Regions from separate parts of the Homo sapiens genome. Here region 2 is linked to region 1. The links come from fine-mapping of genetic effects on gene expression. Tissue or cell type: subcutaneous fat. Region 1 holds a variant in brackets; the other region holds the start of a gene. All regions are shown on one strand. Distances are between the middles of the regions.

Evidence for each region. PIP is the estimated chance that this variant, and not a neighbour inherited with it, causes the effect.
Region 2: RBM38 starts here. The variant in region 1 is fine-mapped to the expression of RBM38 in subcutaneous fat (FUSION, PIP 0.93).

What each region holds. Positions count from the first base shown.
Region 1 is chr20:57,067,440-57,072,532 of GRCh38, forward strand. No RefSeq gene overlaps it. Among named protein-coding and RNA genes, the nearest start is that of BMP7-AS1, 140 kb to the right of the region's middle. RefSeq lists an enhancer at 3,654-4,217. The variant C/T (reference allele first, on the strand shown) is at 2,377.
Region 2 is chr20:57,388,501-57,393,593 of GRCh38, forward strand. It overlaps RBM38 (RNA binding motif protein 38), which reads left to right and starts at 2,896. Exons shown (of 4, transcript NM_017495.6): 1 at 2,896-3,318; 2 at 4,154-4,277; 3 at 4,779-4,833. The coding sequence starts at 3,082. RBM38-AS1 (RBM38 antisense RNA 1) reads right to left here and starts at 4,556. Exons shown (of 2, transcript NR_149006.1): 1 at 3,779-4,556. RefSeq lists silencers at 589-968, 2,579-2,978, 3,329-3,518 and enhancers at 2,613-3,114, 3,115-3,614, 4,369-4,558.

The DNA.
Region 1 (5,093 bases):
GACTCAGTTTCCACCCCTGGAAGACGGGGATGGTAAGTGTATTAGTCAGAGTTCTCCAGAGAAACAGAGCAATAGAAGATATATATATATATGTATATATATATATGTATGAAGAGGAATTGGCTTACATAGATACGGGGGCTGAGAAGCCCTGCTATCTGCCATCTGCAAGCTGGAGACCCAGGAGGATCTGGGATAATTCAGCCCAAGTCTGAAGGCCTGAGAACCTGGGGAGCTGATGTTGCAAATCCTAGTCCAAGGGCGAGAGAGGATGAGCTGAGATGTCCCAGCTCCATTTGGTAGACAGGAAGCAAAAGGGTGAAGCCCTCTTCTCTCTGCCTTTTGTTCTATACAGGCCCTTAAACAATTTGGACAAGGCCCACCCACATTGGGGAGGGCCATCTGCTTTGCTAAGTGAACCAATTCAAATGTTAATCCCATTTGGAAACCCTCTTACCAACACACCAAGAATCATGTTTAATCTGGGCATTAATTGTGGCCCAATCAAGTTGACACGTAAAATTACTGTGGTGGAAGGAAGTCTCCCTCATTGGCAGGATGAGGGGAGATGAGTGTGGGAGTGGCACACAAGTTCTTCACCTGTGGCAGCCTTTCTCATGTGACAGAGTAAAGATGAGGCATTTACCAACAACCCCTCCTTTGCTGGCCAAAGGGGCGTTAGTCCAGTTCAACCATCACTTTGTCTCCTGCCCTCTGGGGAGACTCACTCTCTATCAAACCCTTTGGGTTCTTGGACCTCCTTTCTGGGATGCCAGAAGGTCAAGAAAGCCTGGATTTGATGGAAGGACAGAGAAAGGCTTTAAAGAGACTGATTAAGACAATCTACAAAATAAAGAGCTGAGAGAGAAAAGAGTGGGCAGAAAAGGTAAAATTTTCCTGCAGGATGGGGGAGGGAAATGGCACTGGAGATGAGGAAAGAAGACACTTAGGGAACATAAGTGTCAGACAATGGGAGAATAAGGAAAAGGGGATCTGAAAAAAGTGGCAGGAAGTCAAGCATTGGGGAACTTTGAGTGATCTAGGATTCTTTCGTTGCAAGCAACAGCAATCAGTCCTGGCTGACTTTAGAAAAAGGGAATTCACTGGAAGCATCACAGAACTGAGGGCAGGCTGCAGATGTGGGACTGAGAATGAGTAGGAGCAAGGCAGGCTGCAGGCTATGAGGCAGGTAGCAGAAACAGTCTGATCAAGGTGCAGTTTCTGCGATGGAATGAAACACCAACAATGTCAGCCTCTTTGTCCCTTTGCTTGAGACTCAGGTTCCAAAGTGGGCTATCTGACTGACTTGGTGTGGTTCATGTGCCTACTTCTGTCTGTCTTGTGTGGAGGGGAGGGGTGCTGTAAGCCCAGTGCCCTATCTGTAAATGGAGGAGGGCAAGCCCTTGAATCAAAACTGTCATGGTTATGAAGGGGAAATGGGGCCAGGCAACCAAACATGATGAATTTCCATTACGCTCTTTATGTTCTTTTGAAAGTAGCAAATGGAGGTGCTTTCAAACATCGTTCTGGCTGCAGAACTGTGCATCTTGCACACATCACTTCTCCAAGGTCTTGGTCATTGACCCTCATGGGTCACAGCTTCCTTAAGGTTACTTTATTATTAGAAATACATAAACTGGAGAGTCTTGTGATAGACAGGTGAATAAAATGTCATAGGAATGCAGAAGAGGCAACCTGAGGAAGCCGGGGAAGGCTTCACTGAGGAGGTGACTTTTGGGCATGCTTATAGAAGTTTACAGGGCTAAGCAGCTGATAGGTAGTAGGTGGTAATAAATGCATCTCAATACTTATTTGAGATAAATCAATCTTAAGCAAAGCATGTAGGATTGAAGCCAATCCCCTTCTTCCTAGGAATCTGGGACAAGACTGTCTTGTAACTTGTAGCTTCACCTAACCCAGATACTTCTGGTTATAACTGCAGGCTTTTATGGACAATTTCACTTTTTCTTTTAAATAACTTTCATCAAGACCAATGACACTATTTGACATTAAGTCAAATCGTGCAGAGAAAAACTGGGGCAAAAGTCTTATTTTGTAATTTGTCAGAATGGGTTCTGAAAAGCTGTGCTTGCTCCCAAGGGTTTCCTGCAGGCGAAAAGGAAACTTCCCTAAGACAGAAGAGGGAATCCACCATTTGGCCCCGGATGGATGGTCTCAGCCACAGGACAGGAACAAGGACAGGAATCTGCTCACAGGTCCCCGCCCAGCTGCTCTCTGACCGGCCACAGTATTCAGGCCAAGACACTCAGCTGTGACTGCGAATGCTACTTGTCTGACCTAAGGATCTAAGGACTGTAGCTGCCTTGTTTGCATTTCTTACTCCAACGATAACTCAAAGAAAAGAAAATGAATCAC[C/T]GTGGAAAATGAGGGGAGGGTGCAAAAGTAGTGCCGCAGAGCCTCAGAATCCTCCCACCTGCCCTCCACCTGCATCTCCACCAGCCCATTCTCACCCTTCCCCACATCGCAGGAGAGGAACCGCCCAGTTTCCGGGAAGACAGGGTCACTTGGTTTAGCTGGAGTGGTCCCACTCTTCCTAAGTACCTGGTCTTCACAGTAGCTGCTGTGGCAGGGAAGGACGCAATCCCAGGACTAGACTCTTATCTTCTCCTTTTGCCCAGGCCCCACCAGCTTCCACACTGAACAACACGGGGCCTGTGGATCCATCCTCATCCCCTCCCTAAGCTACTGACCCACTCCCCTCCCCCTCCTGGCATTGATGGGCTGTCCTCAGGGAAGCCAGTGACCCTAGTCCAGGGCCTCAGACCAGGGTCAAGGGGCAGAATGTCTACACCAGGCCAGGGATCCCTGCAGACTGGTCTTCGGGAAGTGCACCCCCAGATGCAATCAGTTCACAGAGGAAAACCACATTTTGTTTAGTCTTTTCCTAGTCTAGAAGGCCTAGTATTTAATAAACCCTGGAGCCAGCCCTGAGGGGGACTGGCTTTTATGGGCTCCAGGCAGCTCTCTCAGCCTCTTCCCAGGTGGGGGGGCTTGGCCTGTTGGCAGCTGACTTGAGTTTTCTTCCCAGCCCCACCTCGCCCAATGCCCCCACCTTTTCCATGAGATGAAGAGAAACTTGGCCTCCAAGGGTCACTCTTCTCCCCAGGAATGTGTGGCCCAGCTTCTCCAGTTTAAAAGACTTTCCTCTGCTCCAGGGCTGACCCCAAACAGATGGGAACCTCTAGAGCTTGGTTGGCCAATGCCATGTTCAGCCCAGTCACAGCTGAGATCTTGTCACCTAGGTGAGTGCTTTACTGCTGGAGAAGTAGCAATCAAGAGAACAGTTCTTTTTAACATGGACATGAGAGATTTTAGGGACCAGTCCCCAGTGCTCAAATCATAGCAGGTCCCACCCAAGAACTTGGCTCATCCACAAACCAAGCTCCTGCCAAGCCCTGGCTTATGGAGATGGACCAGACATTCCTGGGGCATCATGGCAGGCGGCCACTGATGCTGTCTCAAATCCTGGGGTTCCATATTACGGAGAGAATCAGCTGCAAAAGGCAACAATTGTCTTTGAGTCACCCCTGCCCTTCCAAAAATCAGGCTTTCAAGAGTTGAAGGCGTGAAGCGTAATGCAGGGAATTTCTGACAGTGCAGAGGGTATCTGACAGGCTGGGATGTTCCAGCGATGACTGAACACGCAGATTGAATGGAACACTGATTACATTCTTGGTTAGCCGCCTATATAGCCCATACTGGGTCCTCATTACATGTGCCCTAACAACAAACATTATGTTTCATTAAAATATTACACACTTAGGAAAATACTTCTAAAAATGCAAAGAGGAGAATAAAAACTACCGCAAGTGCTATACTGAGACCCAGCGCTGTGGCAAGTTCCCCTGACCTGTCTGCAGGGATCATTACAAGCCGATACTGGCTGCCCAGCGGGACCTGATGAGACATCAGAGAGCTCACGTGACCTCCATTATCACTGTCACCGCCGTGCGTGCTGTTCACACAAACATCGGAGATGTAAGTGACACTTTACAACAATTCCTGAGCCTTCCATCATGTGGCTCAGAATGTCATGGCCCAGATGATGTCGGGGGGTATTAAAACAAATAAATGAACCATCGAACAAGTAAATAAATAAATACACAAAGGAAAGCGGGGAGAGAGAGGGAAGGAACCGGTTAGGGCACTCACACAGTGCAGAGGAGTCTGAAAAGGAATGCTGCCTGCTGGCGCCCTGGCTCTCTGTCTCTCTCCCTGTCTTTCTGTCTCTGTGTGTGTTTTTCCTCACTCTCTGTCTCTCTCGCCATCTAGCTGTCTCTCCTCTCTCGGCCCTTTCTCATCATAAACCCCCTTACATGTGATCTCCTTTAATCCTCACAACAGCCTGATGTAGTCACTGGCTTTCCTCCTATTTTACAGCTGAGAAAACTGGAGCTCTGAGAGATGGACTACCTTGCTCCAAGACACACAGGTGAATCCTAGTGGAGCTGGAGTCAGCCCCAGATAGCTCTATGCCCACCCTCCACCTCCCCCTCCAGCCTGTGTGTGCACGTATGTGCGGGTGTGTTGATGGGAATATACCCTAAGTCAGATTGCAACTTGCAATCTACAGCTCACGGACCAGAAACCTTAGCATTTCCTGGGAGCTCTGTAGAAATGCGGTGTCCCAGACCCCTCCCCAGACCTCCCAAGTCAGAAACTGCATTTTCACAGGATCCCTTGGGAACTCCTGGGCATGTGACAGGCTAAGAAACACCTCTCTACATCTCTCTACAGCCCTTCTCCCACTGCCAGGCAGGACTGAGTTACTGCTTTCCTGAGAGGAGGGAACTACATCACTCCCCAAAAGGAAACTGGAGACCACGCTAGGCGAGCACAGCTTTCCTGAATGCCAGCATACCAGGGCTGGAGGTGCAGGTTTGGTGCTGCCTCCGTCACCCTAAGCCCTCAACATCTCCATCCCCTGGTCTCTTGGTAAACAGCTAAGCCAAGATGGCCAGAGCTGGGAGGATGATTGGGCTGAGTCATGTCACTGTAGCCCACAGACAAGTCTGCAACCCATTAAAGACTTCTCTTCTCCATTAATTTCAGAGACAAAGAGACGTTTGAAG
Region 2 (5,093 bases), 320 kb after region 1:
TGTTGGCATGCACCTGAAGTCCCAGCTACTCAGGAGGCTGAGGCAAGAGGATCAACTGAGCCCAGGAGTTCTGTATCAGCCTGGGCGACATAGAGAGACCCCATCTCTAATTAAAACAAATAAAAACGGCTATGAAAATATTTAAAAAACAAATATGTGATGTAGCAATGTAGACAAGCAATGTCTTCTTCATCAATGCGTTCAACAACAAGGTCAAGTAGTGGCGCTGATGAGACTGTAGTTTTTTTTTTTTTTTGAGACGGAGTCTTGCTCTGTCGCCCAGGCTGGAGTGCAGTGGTGCACATAAATGTGTGTTTGAGGCTGGGTGCAGTGGCTCAGCCTGTAATCCCAGCAATTTGGGAGGCCAAGTCAGGAAGATTGCCTAATCCCAAGAGTTCGAGACCAGCCTCTACACAAAATATAAAATTATCCCGGCATCGTAGTACGCACCGGTAATCCCAGTTACTTGGGAGGCTGAGGTAGGAGGATGGCTTGGAGCCCGAGAGGTCGAGGCTGCAATGAGCTATGATCGCTACACTCCAGCGACAGGGAGAGACCTTGTCTCAAAAAAAAAAAAAAAAAAAGTGTGTGTTTGGGTGAATGACTGATTGTCAGGCAGAAGCTGGTGACCCGTGGAGACATGGGGCCGCCGGAGGGGGGGAGGGATTGGTGATCCAGATACCCAAGGGGGCCCGGGGGCGGGGGGCGAAGGAGTGCGACTGGACCCGCACCTGGGCAACCGCGTCTCCAGCCTCCACGGCCCTGTCCCGCCCCCTTCCGGGCAGGCAGAGGCCCCGGGGCTGCCCTGCCGCCTGGGCCCGGCCCCCGCGGCAGCAGCCGAGCGGCCGCACCCCTTTGTGGGGCTGTCGTGCCGGGAGGGGCGCGGGCGAGGCGGGCCCGGGCGGCGCTGGGACTTGTAGGCCGGGAGCCCGGGCGCCTCCGGGCTGAAGCCCGTGGCCACGCCACCGACGCGGCTCCAGCCTGCCCAGGCAACGCGACGGCTGGGGACAGCCTTGGAAAAACTGAAGGGGAAACCGAGGCCTGGTGAAGGGATCCAGCTGGCGCAAAAGCACGCGGCCGCGCAGTGGCCGCCTCCCCCGGCCTCTAGGGGGCAAGTGAAGGTCACACTTAAATGAAAGTTTTCAAAGTCGCTTCGAAGGGCCTCCGGCTGGGCCAGAGCTTTCCCCCACCCCACCTTGTTCCATCGTGGATACACTCAACAAACATATCCCAGAGCCCTCTCCTTGCCAGGCCCTCCAGCTTGGGCAAAACATCCCAGGTCCCTGTTCTCGCAGCGCCCAAATAGCAGGGGAGGGGCTCCAGGCAGGCGAACACACAGGGCCGGGGAGGTGGGAAACTCCGCGAAGGAAGGAGAGGAAACCACGCGGGATGAAGGGCAACGGGGGCCGCAAGCGGGGGCAGGAGCGCCAGGAACGAGGAACGAAGGGGGAAGGGAGGAAAGGACGCCCAGGCTTCCGGAAGACTCGGGGGTCCCATCCCCACTGTGCAGAGGGCTAGAGCGGGAGCTGGGGGAGGGAGAGGTCAGAGGTCAAGGCTGCCGCGTGGAGCGTGGGCCGTGGAGTGGGGGAGGGGGCGGGCAGACTCCTCCCCGCCGGCAGCCAGGGCAGAGGGCTGGAGGAAACGCGGAGAACTCCTCGGTGCTGGAGGAAACGAGGGGAACTCCTCGCCGGCCTTGCGGTCCCCCACAGCCCACGGAGTGCCACTCCCAGTCCCCACAGACCCCACCTGCGTCGCCCTGTGCTGAGAGGAGGCCGCAGGGCTGGGGCCGGGAGTGACCCCAATTAGAGCTGCTGTTTCCCAGCTGCATAGGTCCCAACCGCGGGGGCTGGAGATGAGGCGGGCTTGAGGCCCCTAGTCCCGGCTTCAGAGGTGGAGGGTGTGACCCGCAGGTCCGGGATCCCGGGGTCTGTGCAGTCACACGGCCCTTCCCTTCGCTCAGGAAAGCCCGGGGCTGAGTTTCATGCTCAACCGCTGCCAACTTGAAATTCCTAGCTTTTGAATAAGGGGCCCCGCGTTTGCATTTTGCACTGGGCCCCGAAAATTCTGTGGCTGGCCCTGCCTGGTGTGAAGCTCACAGAGCCCCACTATGCGCCGCCTTTCTATGGCTGGGGGCCGGATGAGGGACCCGGGTCTGCTCTTACTCGCCCCAAGGGTCCCTGACACCAGCCCAGAACGGGGTGGAGCTGGAAAGAGCCCACACCTGCTTCCTCTGCCCACCTCATCTCCCGCGGGGCCTCTGAGACCGCCCGGGACCCGCTTCTATCGCGGCACCGTGGTGTAGCTCCCTCCGGGGTCGTATGCTGTATGTTTACTAGCCGAATTCTCAGTCCTGGACGCTCCGTGGGGCCAGGGAATATGATCTGTGCTCCGCTGCAGCCTCGCGCCCAGAGTAAATATCGGTCGGATGAACTAATCTTACATATAAAACAGAAATCATTTCCCTTTTTTAATATGGCACGTGGCTCTTCCCTAAGTCGCCCTGGGTTAAATACCGACTCAATTAACAAGATGCTAAAAACCGTTTACGTTTTTTTACGTTTTTTACGTTTAATTCACCAGACGGTGCGCTCCACGAGGGAAGGGGCCTGGCCTCCCTAGTTCAGGGTTGTGCTTAGTGCCTGCAACCGGCCGGGCCCGCGGGGGCAGCCAGGAGAGAAAGGCGCGCCCAGCGCCCCCAGGCCCGGATCCGCCCTCAGCCCGCGTGCGCTCCCCTCCCCCCTCCCCCCAATCGCCGCGCGCCCGGGTGCGGCTGGGCGGGGTTAGAACTACGCTTCCCGGCGGTCCCCGCGCGCCCGGGGCGGGGCGGGGCCGGCTGGGGGCGGGGCTGAGCTGGCGGGGGCGGCAGGCTACAAAGCCCGGGGGCGGTGCCGGGGCGCAGAGTCCCCGCAGCGCCGGTCGGGAGCGCAGCGCGGCGCACGTCGGCGCGCACGGCGGGACGGGCGCCGGAGTGGTCGGGCCTGGCGGCTGGACGGGCGCCCCTCGCTGCCCCGCGCGCTCCCCGCCGCCCCCCATGAGCGCAGCCCCGCGCGGCCCGGGTCCGTAGGCGGCGGGGCGCCCCCCATGCTGCTGCAGCCCGCGCCGTGCGCCCCGAGCGCGGGCTTCCCGCGGCCCCTGGCCGCCCCCGGCGCCATGCACGGCTCGCAGAAGGACACCACGTTCACCAAGATCTTCGTGGGCGGCCTGCCGTACCACACTACCGACGCCTCGCTCAGGAAGTACTTCGAGGGCTTCGGCGACATCGAGGAGGCCGTGGTCATCACCGACCGCCAGACGGGCAAGTCCCGCGGCTACGGCTTCGTAAGTGGCCCCCGCGCCCGGGCCCGCACCCCGCCGCACACCTTATCGCGGCCCGGGCGCCGAGTCCACTCCGGGGCACACGCCCAGACGGCCCGCTGCCGCCCCCGCCCCAGGCGCCTCCAGCCGGCGCCCGCACCTGCCGCCTCTCCCGGGCGCGCTCCTGCCGGTCCCGCCCCCACCACCCCAGGCCCCGGCCCCCACCCCCACCCCCACCCCCACCCCCACCCCCGGTTTAAAAGGAAGAGCCGCTGTGTTCAATTAGGACTCCTAAGTTGGTGGGGAGGTTTTGGAGCCAGAGGGCACTCGGGATTTCCTGGAGCAGCGGGGGGTGAGGAGCAATGGCTCCACCCCGGGGTGTTAGGAGCTCTTCGGCCTCCCCCATATTTTTAACAGCCCTCTCAGCCGCCCCAAATAAACATCAGCTTAAGTAAAAACGTCTTGAAGACACTTTCCTGCTTACCTTCCAAGCATAGCGTCGCAAACTCCTTCTCAGAGGAAAGTCTCGGCCCTCACTGGTGGGCAAGTCCAGGCGGCCCCCCAAGCTCCCTTCGGGGTTCATTTTTGCCCTATCCCCGCAGGGGATTATTTTTGTCCTTGAAGGCCACATTTCCCAGGCCTTGAACTTTGACGGGAGGAGCTGGAATCCAGGAGGCATCTTTGTGGGAGAGCCCCAGGTAGGGTTCAGAGGAGCTTTGGCTCAAGGACCCTGGGTCACAGGCACCCTCAGAGGAAGGGAAGAGAGGGGTGGCAGCATCCGGTGCCAGGGCGGAGCCGTCTGCCCCTTTCGCCCCTGGTTCCCCCCACGGCAGCCCCTGATGTGTCTCTGCTCCACCAGGTGACCATGGCCGACCGGGCGGCAGCTGAGAGGGCTTGCAAAGACCCGAACCCCATCATCGACGGCCGCAAGGCCAACGTGAACCTGGCATATCTGGGCGCCAAGCCGCGGAGCCTCCAGACGGGTGAGAGCTTGTGTTTTCCTGCCTGGCTCTTCTCGGTTTCTATATTGGGTGTCGGTATCTGTCGGGTGGAAAGAGGCCCCCCCTCCTCGCCCCAGCAGTGGCAGTCGGCTATCATGTGCCTGCAGAGCCGGCACAGGGCAGCCATCCCCCCCTCGAGGATCTAGACCCCTTCTCACAGCGTGTGGCCCAAAGAAGGGGGCGGGGGGCAGGGAGGGTACTGCACCCCAGTTGCCAGCTGTCCTCGCAGGAGGGAGGAAGTGGCCATGGGGCCTGGAGGTTGGGAGTGCCGACACCAGTGGCTGCTGACACCTGCGTCACTCACTGCCACACTTCAGCGGTGTGCCTTGGGGTTCACAAGGGGGAGGCCTGGGAGGGGAGAGGAAGCGGATGATCCCTTTTGACTAGAGGTGTGTGGCTTGTGGGATTCTGCCACCCTGTGTGCAGCCCTTGAGACGTGGCTCGTGCAGCAAGGCCAAGTCCCTGATTGTTCTCTCGTTTTAGGCTTTGCCATTGGGGTGCAGCAGCTGCACCCCACCTTGATCCAGCGGACTTACGGGTGAGTGGACATGGCTGGCTTGGGGTGGGTAGTCCGTGGAGATGAAGTGGAGAGGGCCTTGGGCTTCCTGGGTCTGGAAGGCTGGGGAAATGACAGTTTTCAGACATTTGATTGCGTTTAAGCCAAGGGAGTGAAGAGAAGGCAGATTGCACTTCTCCATCCCTGGCAGAGGCCATACCACCTAGGGGATGGTGAGCCTTGGAGCCTGCCTGCCTTGGTACACACCCCAGCTCCCTTCGCTAGGTGTGTGGCCTCAGTTT